3 linked regions of the Homo sapiens genome follow. The protein of the gene in region 1 interacts with the protein of each later gene in a pairwise test. Each region holds a gene or a part of one and is shown in the gene's direction. Other genes may lie near its edges. The genes, in order: TNFRSF10D, PCYT1A and MTERF4.

Region 1 (3,828 bases):
GGATTACAGGCGCACACTGCCACGCCTGGTTAGTTTTTTGTATTTTTAGTAGAGGTGGGGTTTCACCGTGTTAGCCAGGATGGTCTCGATCTCCTGACCTTGTGATCCGCCCTCCTTGGCCTCCCAAAGTGCTGAGATTACAGGCGTGAGCCACCGTACCCAGCTACGCCCCGTTAATTTTTGTATTCTTTAGTAGAGACGGGGTTTCACCATGTTGGTCGTGCTGGTCTTGAACTCTTGACATCGTGATCCGCCTGCCTCGGCCTCCCAAAGTGCTGGGATTACAGGTGTGAGCCACGGTGCCCGGTGCTACTGATTTTTATACATTGATTTTGTATCCTGAAATTTTGCTGAAGTCGTTTATTAGTTCCAGGGGCCTTTTGGTGGAGTATTTAGGGTTTCCAAGGTATAGAATCATATCGTCCATGAAGAGTTTTCACTTCTTCATTTCATATCTGGATGCCTTTTCTTTCTTTCTCTTGCCTGAGTGCTCTGACTAGGACTTCCAGTACTATGTTGAATGGGAGTGGTGAGCGTGAGCATCCTTGCCTTGTTCCAGTTCTCAAGGGGAATGCTTCCAGCTTTGGCCCATTCAGTATGATGTTGGCTGTGGGTTTGTCATAGATGGCTCTTACCATTTTGAGGCATGTTCCAATGGGAACTTTCTAATGTTTTTTAACATCCAAAAGAGCAAACACCTCTTCCATACTTTTTCAAAATGTATTATTTTACCCAGATAAAATTTAGAATTAAAAGATTTCCTCCATCCTTCCCTCCCGAAAAACCTCAGTTGCCGTTTTATCAATTCGCTTTAAAATTAAAAATTAATCTAGAAACACTGAATATTTTATTAATATTCAGTATTTCCTTATCAAAGGAGATAACATTTGGTGTCAAGTATTTTATTGTAACTGAGTTGTGATTTGTGTTCCTCTTCAAATAAATTATTCCTGTTTCTTATGGCTGTTTAGTATTTTGTATCCATTATGAGTTGGATAACCTTGTAATTCTGTTTGCTAATTTATTGCATTTGCTATGTTTTTAACATTCCTCCAGACATACATTTCTATTTCAATATTGTAGTTTCATCTTAGGGGTTTTAAATGACGTTGAAAATAATGATTATTGTGTCTGCCCTCTTCCAAAAGTCTTGCCTCATTTTAATTTTCCATCTTGTTGCCTAGGCCAGACCTTTCAGAACAATATTCAGCTGTGCTTAGGGAAGGCAGGTGTTTGGGTCCTGATTTGATTTCTGGGGAAGGCCTCCAAAGTGTCACTCTTAGCAATGGCATTCACTTTTGGTTTCATATAGAAATTCTCATCATCAAGAACACAGCTTACTATTCTAAAAGGGTTTGAAAAAAATCAGAATTGCTGTTTAATTTTACCAAATGTCTTTCCAGCCTCCATAGAGACTGCCATTTTATTTAATTACGCTATTGATATGGTAGAGTACTGATGATCAAAGATCATTTACAGTCTTGGGATAAATCATTTTGTTAGGTTTTCCTGGGTGCTCTCATATATAGTCTGCCGAGACTCTGCTGGTAAGAATTCTGGAAGGAAGTGATCATTTCTTGTGAGGGTGGGTGGGAGTTGATTAGATGGGGCAGAAGGGGACTTTCTGGGGTGTGGCAGTTTCTATGTCTTGATCAGGGGATAATTACACAGGCCTATAGTCAAAGTTGGTCAGAACACTTACAAAGTGAGCATTTACTGCATGTCACTTATGTCTCAATGAGCCACCAGCACACAGAGCCCAAGAGCTATGGAGGACCAGAGGTTTGTCTCCATCTCCATGGAGACCCAAGAGGGAAAGCGCTGCAGGTCTCTTGCTGGCTAGTGGTCAGGGTCAGTACTAGACTGCAGGACTCCTGACTCTGACCAGAGCATTCCCCACTGTGTGTTACAGGAACAGGCAGAAGCTGAAGGGTGTCAGAGGAGGAGGCTGCTGGTTCCAGTGAATGACGCTGACTCCGCTGACAGTAAGTGTTTTGTGCCTTGAGACGCAGCAGGAGGACAGGGAATAGGGACGGTGTCCTAACTGCTGTCCCTATAGCTGAGAGGGCTCTTCTGGAGGTTTCACTGCTGGAAGCAGGGGGCCCCATGTCGATCCTGTGCTGATCGTCCTTGGAGCATTGAGACCCTAAATCTCTTCTCTCTTCTCAGTCAGCACCTTGCTGGATGCCTCGGCAACACTGGAAGAAGGACATGCAAAGGAAACAATTCAGGACCAACTGGTGGGCTCCGAAAAGCTCTTTTATGAAGAAGATGAGGCAGGCTCTGCTACGTCCTGCCTGTGAAAGAATCTCTTCAGGAAACCAGAGCTTCCCTCATTTACCTTTTCTCCTACAAAGGGAAGCAGCCTGGAAGAAACAGTCCAGTACTTGACCCATGCCCCAACAAACTCTACTATCCAATATGGGGCAGCTTACCAATGGTCCTAGAACTTTGTTAACGCACTTGGAGTAATTTTTATGAAATACTGCGTGTGATAAGCAAACGGGAGAAATTTATATCAGATTCTTGGCTGCATAGTTATACGATTGTGTATTAAGGGTCGTTTTAGGCCACATGCGGTGGCTCATGCCTGTAATCCCAGCACTTTGATAGGCTGAGGCAGGTGGATTGCTTGAGCTCGGGAGTTTGAGACCAGCCTCATCAACACAGTGAAACTCCATCTCAATTTAAAAAGAAAAAAAGTGGTTTTAGGATGTCATTCTTTGCAGTTCTTCATCATGAGACAAGTCTTTTTTTCTGCTTCTTATATTGCAAGCTCCATCTCTACTGGTGTGTGCATTTAATGACATCTAACTACAGATGCCGCACAGCCACAATGCTTTGCCTTATAGTTTTTTAACTTTAGAACGGGATTATCTTGTTATTACCTGTATTTTCAGTTTCGGATATTTTTGACTTAATGATGAGATTATCAAGACGTAGCCCTATGCTAAGTCATGAGCATATGGACTTACGAGGGTTCGACTTAGAGTTTTGAGCTTTAAGATAGGATTATTGGGGCTTACCCCCACCTTAATTAGAGAAACATTTATATTGCTTACTACTGTAGGCTGTACATCTCTTTTCCGATTTTTGTATAATGATGTAAACATGGAAAAACTTTAGGAAATGCACTTATTAGGCTGTTTACATGGGTTGCCTGGATACAAATCAGCAGTCAAAAATGACTAAAAATATAACTAGTGACGGAGGGAGAAATCCTCCCTCTGTGGGAGGCACTTACTGCATTCCAGTTCTCCCTCCTGCGCCCTGAGACTGGACCAGGGTTTGATGGCTGGCAGCTTCTCAAGGGGCAGCTTGTCTTACTTGTTAATTTTAGAGGTATATAGCCATATTTATTTATAAATAAATATTTATTTATTTATTTATAAGTAGATGTTTACATATGCCCAGGATTTTGAAGAGCCTGGTATCTTTGGGAAGCCATGTGTCTGGTTTGTCGTGCTGGGACAGTCATGGGACTGCATCTTCCGACTTGTCCACAGCAGATGAGGACAGTGAGAATTAAGTTAGATCCGAGACTGCGAAGAGCTTCTCTTTCAAGCGCCATTACAGTTGAACGTTAGTGAATCTTGAGCCTCATTTGGGCTCAGGGCAGAGCAGGTGTTTATCTGCCCCGGCATCTGCCATGGCATCAAGAGGGAAGAGTGGACGGTGCTTGGGAATGGTGTGAAATGGTTGCCGACTCAGGCATGGATGGGCCCCTCTCGCTTCTGGTGGTCTGTGAACTGAGTCCCTGGGATGCCTTTTAGGGCAGAGATTCCTGAGCTGCGTTTTAGGGTACAGATTCCCTGTTTGAGGAGCTTG
Region 2 (3,600 bases), on another chromosome or scaffold:
CTACTAGAGCCTGTGTTTTGTGAAGCTTCGCTGGTTTTGCCAGATGCCATTGGCTCATCTTGGTGAAGTGCAGCTGTAGAATTGGTATTTTGCTGAGTGTATCCACGTCAACGTCTCTGAAATACTGGTGACAAACTTTTTCCCACCCCAATGAGAAAATTTTTGTTTTCACTTTCTATGACCAGTTAAAAGAAGATGGATGCACAGTGTTCAGCCAAGGTCAATGCAAGGAAGAGGAGAAAAGAGGCGCCCGGACCCAACGGGGCAACAGAAGAAGATGGGGTTCCTTCCAAAGTGCAGCGCTGTGCAGTGGTAAGTGGAGATTAACCTGGCAGGGGGAGGGTAGAAACCGATATGACATTGATGATATCAGTGTTACATGTCTTCTGAAATAATGAAAAGAAGGAATAGTAAGTGTATTTTCACAGTCACTGGAAATCTGCTGCCTTTTTACTGGATTATGACTCACAGCTCAGTTGTAGAAGCTTTACATTGGGTTTAGAAAAAGAAGTGTTAGGAAAATATGGAAGTTGCATGTGTATTAGGCTGAAACTATTGAAATATGGCCAGGTGCGGTGACTCATACCTGTAATCCCACACTTTGGGAGGCTGAGGTGGGAGGATCACCTGAGGTCAGGAGTTTGAGACCAGCCTGGTGAAACCCTGTCTTTACTAAAAATACAAAATTAGCCGGGCGTGGTGGCGCATGCCTGTAATCTCAGCTGCTTGGGAGGCTGAGGCATGAGAATTGCTTGAACTCGGGAGGCGGAGGATGCGGTGAGCCGAGATTGCACCATTGCATTCCAGCCTGGGCAACAGAGACAGACCCTATCTCAAAAATAAAAATAAAAAGTAAATAAACAAATAAATAAAACTAATGAAATAGAAAAATTGGGGCTCTAGGCAGTGATTTGATCTTCGTATCATCTCATGGTGTCTAGTGCGTCTTTTCTGCTGTTTTTTCTCCCTCTATCATTCCTCCATCCTGTTACTAGTTGTATCTTAGATGAGAACCTTTTTCCGTTTATGCCTACCTTATGCTCCTTTATCTCTGGAAAATTATCTTTGTATTTCCTAATTATTGCCAAACCTTAGATGAAAGACCCCATTCCACACTGCCTATCCCATCTCAGCTTGCTACCCTTCCTAAAGCTTTCCTCCACACTGCCTATCCTGTCTCAGCTTGCTACCCTTCCTAAAACTTTCCATAATAAAAACATGTCAGAGAACACTTACACACAATTGAAGCTACTGTTGTTAATATTATTATGAAATCTGTGTTTCAAAATCCCAGTGACAGAATTGTATGTTTCTTTACCTATATTGACTATTAGCCATTGATCAAACTCAGTTTCCACTGCTTAGTTCTAGAGCTTCCCAGCCCAAAGGGAAAAATCTATTCTGAAACAGTTAATACTTATTCCAAATGAATGCTCTGTCTTGAGCAATAAAAGCAAATAATACCCTACAAATAGACAAGTGCCTGCAGGGCTGATATTGATCATAAGGGCAAGTATATATATTTGTTTCCTGTTGCATTTGTAACAAATTACCATAATACAAATATACAAATGAATTATCTTACAGTTCTGGATATCAGAAATCTGAAATGGGTCTCAGAGGGCTAAAATCAGGGTGTTGGCAGAGCTGGAGGGTCCAGGGGAAAGTCCATCTTCTTGCCTTTTCCAGCTTCTAGAGGGTTCCCACATTGCTTAGTGCTTGGCACCAGCCAGTGCTCACATCACTCTGACGATTGCTTCTGCCATGTCTCCTGCTCTGATTCTGAACCTCCTACTTCCCCTTTTCACTTACAAGGACTCTTGTGATTACGTTCGGTATACCCAGATAAACCAGAATAATCTTCCTTTATTTAATCATATCTGCAAAGCCTCTTTACTATTTTTATTTTTATTTATTTTTATTTGTATTTTTGAGACAGAGTCTCGCTTTGTCACCCAGGCTGGAGTGCAGTGGTGCGGTCCCGGTTCACTGCAACGTCTGCCTCTTGGGTTCAAGTGATTTCCCTGCCTCAGCCTCCCAAGTGGCTGGGATTGCAGGTGCCCACCACCATGCCTGGCTTACTATTTTTATTTTTATTTTTATTTTTAGAGTAAGGGTCTTGCTATGTTGCCCAGGCTGGTCTTGAACTCCTGAGCTCAAGTAGTCTTCCTATCTCGGCCTCCCAGAGTGCTAGGATTACCAGGCGTGAGCCACTGTGCCTGGCCTGCAGAGTCTCTTTTGCCATGTATGGTAAAACAGTCACAGGCTCCAGGGAATGGGTGTGGCCATCTGCAGGGGGGCATTATTCTGCATACTACAGCAAATAAGCTCAGAAAGTGACTCAGCAATCAACAAAACAGGGCATTGTTAGTTTCTGAATATTTCTTAGATAATTCAGATTAAAGAAATGGTGGTGTGTACCAATTCAGCAACATCACTTGGAGTAGGAACAAGTTATAACCAAATAGGTGATACTGTCAGCTAATCAGCCAATCACTGTAGCTAGGAATAAAGCAAAGGAAGCCAGTCTTTTCAGTGGAATGAGCTCTGAGAAAACTTAAATTTCTTGGTCTTTAGACTCTGGGAATCTTTTTTTTTTTTAAATTCTTCTGGGGAGTCTTAATGCTTTAAATTACTTTGCTTCATATATTCATGTGAAATCAGTTCAGTGACTTGCTGCTACCTATTCCACATTCCTCCCTGAAACACACAGACTATTTGGCATAGGTGAATGGTCAGAGATCCACCCAACAGCCTGGCCCACCTTAGTGAGGAGGAATGTCTGCTAGTAAACTTTCTGCCATCTCACTGTACACCTGTACTTTCTAGCTCTGAATCTCCTTTGAACTCTATAACAAAAGCAAGCAAGACTTTTTTCTTTTTTTAACAGCTTTATTGAGTTATAATTGACATATCATTTACAGTATACAATTCAGTGGTTTTCAGTTTATTCACAGAGTTGTGCAACCATCACCATGACCAATTTTAGAATTTTTTTCTTTTTTTTTTTGAGACAGGGTCTTGGTCTGTTACCCAGGCTGCAGTGCAGTGGTGTGATCATAGTTCACTGCAGCCTCAACTTTCTGGGCTCAAACAGTCCTCTCACCTCAGCCTCCCAAGTAGCTGGGAATATAGGTGCACATCACCATGCTTGGCTAATTTTTAAATTTGTTTTTGTAGGGATGGGGTCTCACTATGTTACCCAGACTGGTCTCAGTCTCCTGGATCAAGCGATTCTCCTGCCTCAGCCTGCCACAGTGTGGGATTACAGGTGTGAGCCACCATGCCTGGCCTGGGATATTTTTATCACCCCAGAAAGAAGGCCTGTACTCATTAGCAGTCACTCCCCATTTCCCCCCAGTCTCTCCAGCCTCTGGAAGCCACTAATCTGCTTTCTGATTCTGTGGATTTGCCTGTTCTGGACATTCATACAAATGACATCATACGGTATGTGGTCTTTGGGGCTGGCTTCTTTCACTGAGCTTGTTTTGAAGATTCATTCGTACTGCAACATGTACAAGTACTTAATTTTTTTTTTTTTTTTTTTTGAGACTGAGTCTCGCTCTGTCGCCCAAGCTGGAGTGCAGTGGCGCAATCTCG
Region 3 (3,828 bases), on another chromosome or scaffold:
GTGTGGTCTTGAAGAAAAGTCCCCAGTTATTGAAACTGCCTATTATGCAAATGAGGAAGCGCTCCAGTTACCTGCAAAAGCTTGGGCTTGGAGAAGGTACAAGAAGTTGCAGATTTTGGCTGGGTGCGGTGGCTCATGCCTGTAATCCCAGATCTTTGGGAGGCCGAGGCAGGCAGATCACTTGAGGTCAGGGGTTCAAGATCAGCCTGGCCAACATGGTGAAACCCTGACTCAACTAAAAATAGAAAAATTAGCTGGGCTTGGTGGCACGCACCTGTAATTCCAGCTACTTGGGAGGCTGAGGCATGAAAATCGCTTGAACCCAGGAGGCGGAGGTTGCAGTGAGCTGAGATGGCGCCACTGCACTCCAGCCTGGGTGACAGCAAGGCTGTCTCAAAAAAAAAAAAAAAGATTTTATATAGTGTGACAGGAGCCAGAGGTGGGGAAAGAGCAGCCTAAGGTGAGATGGATTAGGGGAGGTTTCTGAGTATGTCAGTGTTCCTGGAGAGGACTGTATAATTTGGCTTGGAGGTGAGGAATAGGAGTGGCTTTCTGTGCAGAATACATTTTGAGAGGGAAGGAGGAGGAGTTAAGACTAGAAGAAAAAATTGAGTGCCAGGGCAGAGACTCTTGTCTGCCTTGTTCACCGTGGGATCTTCAGCACCTAGTGCAGTGGTGGGCATATGGTATGTGTTCAGTGGGTTGATGCTGATAATGTGATGTTGATAAATATGTGTACATATAGCATTTGATGTTTAAATCAACATGAAATGGTCTTAGTGCTCTGTCTCTGTGATGTGATGTCAAACCAACATCTCTTGTAAAGACTTAGATTCTAGTCGAGTGTTTAGATTTACTCTGGAACATGAGAGATCTGGCCAGGTTCCTGGGATACTCGTGGAGTGGCCTTCCCTTCTATTTATCCCCCACTCCTGCCCCCAACAATATTCACATCTCAAGGATGCTCAAAGTTCCTTGAATCTCTTTAAGGGCCTTCTGGAGGAGTTGGGGGTCTCCAAGGACCCTTACCCACTTTGACCAGAGGAGTTCCACTATTATTTCTTTGCATTATTGACTCTTCCTGGTAAGATGTTTTTTGAGGCAGTGGTAGAAGGTTTAGGATCCACCATTTCACAGCATCTCTACAGGCCTCCTTCTCTAGAAGATAAGAAAAAGGTAGCCTTGTATATTTTTCTTAACAGATTCTTACAGTGTAATCTAAAAGTCTAAATATATTATGTGTGGTGGTGATTAATTAGCAAACTCAGCACAGCCTTAAGAAATGAAGATAAACCTAAACTGAAATTCCTCACATATTAAGATAATCACTAACTCAAATGTTAGGAAAATTTTAATTAACAGTTTAAATAGTTGACTTTAAGTTTCCCATTACTGAATTTTGCTCAGCTATCCCTAGGAAGGCCTGGAATAGTCCCAGTTTACACCAGTTAGTGCGGTTTTAATAGGGCCTCTTTCACTCAAGGTGCCCTGGCTTGGAGAAGATATATGGTGACCCTGGTAACCAGGACGTCAGCATTGGTGTTGTGTGTCCTCATGATTACTATTATTGTTATTACTGTTATGATGACGATGGTGATGGAACTCCTTTTCATTGAGTTCAGCTTGAGAATGTTAGTTGTGAATGCTTCAATGACTATTTTATTATAGAAGGAAACATCAACCCAAACCAGCAATATGGAGGAAACTACTCTCCCATATTACTCTCTGATCTTTCCAGTAAATGCCTGGGAAATTCTTTTCCAAGTGAGGAGGGCAAGAGGAGACCCAAAATACAAAGTTGGCACCTTTCAGGTGGGAGGCCAGAATAAAGCAGGAATATAGGGAGGGAAGGATGGTGAGTCTGAGGAGTGTCAGGAAGTCAGTGGGGAGATGTATCATTTCCATGGTGCTTCTGGGAAGATAGATCTGAAATTGCCACTTGCTCTGTGGAAGGAGAGGATCCTTGTTTGTTTTTAAATGTGGACTTAAATTGGGTGCAGCTAGCTCCTTGAGTTTCTGGAGTATCCTGAAATTATATGCTTGCCTTTTTTGAATGTTCTGCAGGGAAATTAAAGAGGGTGCTTTACTGTTGCCCTGAAATTTTCACCATGCGCCAGCAGGACATTAACGACACTGTCAGGCTTCTCAAGGAGAAGTGCCTTTTCACGGTACAGCAAGTCACCAAGATTTTGCACAGTTGCCCCTCTGTTCTTCGAGAGGACCTGGGTCAACTGGAATACAAGTTTCAGGTGAGAATGACTGATAGCGTGATTAGCGTAGTTTCAGGTGAGAATGACTGGTAATGGGATTAGCGTAGTTTCAGGTGAGAATGACTGGTACCGTGATTAGTGTAGTAACAGCAAGTTTCTCAGGTTTTTCAAATGTAGTGAAGGTCAGTTATATGGATAAGAAGCCTCGGACACCTCATATTTGAGTGGAGGAAGTGAAAGACTAGATTCTCTGCATACATCAGCCAAAGAGAAATCTTTAATTTCTTTACTACAGATCAAACCTATTCTTCAACTTTTCTGCCATTAATAATGAATGATCCAGTCCTATTCTTAGAGTCTAAGTGGGGACTCTGAAATAGCTAATTTTAAAATAGCTGAAACCTTCCTGTCCTTAGAATCTATTTTGCATGTTGATTTTGAAAATGTAATTTTAACAGTTGTCCGATTTTTTGGTAATAATTATGACAACTTAGGTCGAATTTCTAGATGTTTTCTGAATGTTTTGCCTATTCTTTCCATATTCATCCTTTTCCTTCCCCATTTAAAGAAAAATACCACCTCTTCCTTCTGCCCCTTCTCCCTCCTGCCCCTTTTCCCTCCCACCCCTTTATTTCCTGCTCCATGTTTCTCAGGATGAATTTGAAAGTGTTTTGAAACTGCTGGCTGTCACACAAATGTCAGTATCCTAGACTGGGTATTCGCTGTTGTCAATTAGGCAATTCTTTTTGAATCCTTTTGTACAACTTAAGTTTTTATGGTTTATAGAATGATAGGTTTCAATACTCTGTATCTGGGACTCCTAAGTGTGTTTGTGTCTTCCAGTATGCATACTTCAGGATGGGAATTAAGCATCCAGACATTGTAAAGAGTGAGTACTTGCAGTATTCACTAACCAAGATTAAGCAGAGACACATTTACCTGGAGCGCCTGGGACGGTACCAAACCCCTGATAAGAAGGGGCAGACACAGATCCCTAACCCATTGCTCAAGGACATTCTCAGAGTTTCAGAAGCTGAGTTTTTGGCCAGGACAGCCTGTACTTCTGTTGAGGAGTTTCAAGTTTTTAAGAAGCTCCTGGCTCGGGAGGAGGAGGAGTCTGAGAGCAGCACATCTGATGACAAAAGGGCAAGTCTGGATGAGGATGAGGATGACGATGATGAGGAGGACAATGATGAGGATGACAATGATGAGGATGACGATGATGAGGACGACGACGAGGCGGAGGACAATGATGAGGATGAGGACGACGACGAGGAGGAATAGCTGTGATGGAAGGACTAGAGCGAAAGGGCCCAGAGATATCAAGGAAGCTTTTCATTCTCTTAAAGCTTTTGGGTCCTTTACTTGAATCTTCTCAAGTTATTTTTTATTCTAAAACTGGTCTCTTGATGAAAAAAATTATAAGTCACCTGAGAGGCAGACAGATCAAACCAAACAGGAAACAGGAAATGCATGTTTGATCTGTTGTCACGTGTCTGTGGGGAGGGCCCTGTCCCATCCTGAATAAGATACTTATGTTGAGCTATTCACATCAAGGGGACTCAATATATCAACAATTGGTTTTATTTTTTTCTCTTTTGAATATGTTGGTGATAAT

The links.
Region 2: the proteins of TNFRSF10D (region 1) and PCYT1A interact in binary tests that used the Homo sapiens proteins (3 or more experiments, as listed by UniProt).
Region 3: the proteins of TNFRSF10D (region 1) and MTERF4 interact in binary tests that used the Homo sapiens proteins (3 or more experiments, as listed by UniProt).

Annotation. Positions count from the first base shown.
Region 1 is NC_000008.11:23,136,345-23,140,172, reverse strand, and holds part of TNFRSF10D (tumor necrosis factor receptor superfamily member 10D precursor), read left to right. Parts: intron 1-1,912; coding exon 1,913-1,985; intron 1,986-2,169; coding exon 2,170-2,303; 3' UTR 2,304-3,828. UniProt on the Homo sapiens protein: Receptor for the cytotoxic ligand TRAIL. Contains a truncated death domain and hence is not capable of inducing apoptosis but protects against TRAIL-mediated apoptosis. Reports are contradictory with regards to its ability to induce the NF-kappa-B pathway.
Region 2 is NC_000003.12:196,267,127-196,270,726, reverse strand, and holds part of PCYT1A (choline-phosphate cytidylyltransferase A), read left to right. Parts: intron 1-185; 5' UTR 186-195; coding exon 196-312; intron 313-3,600. UniProt on the Homo sapiens protein: Catalyzes the key rate-limiting step in the CDP-choline pathway for phosphatidylcholine biosynthesis.
Region 3 is NC_000002.12:241,095,664-241,099,491, reverse strand, and holds part of MTERF4 (transcription termination factor 4, mitochondrial), read left to right. Parts: coding exon 1-96; intron 97-2,064; coding exon 2,065-2,249; intron 2,250-3,053; coding exon 3,054-3,494; 3' UTR 3,495-3,828. UniProt on the Homo sapiens protein: Regulator of mitochondrial ribosome biogenesis and translation. Binds to mitochondrial ribosomal RNAs 16S, 12S and 7S and targets NSUN4 RNA methyltransferase to the mitochondrial large ribosomal subunit (39S).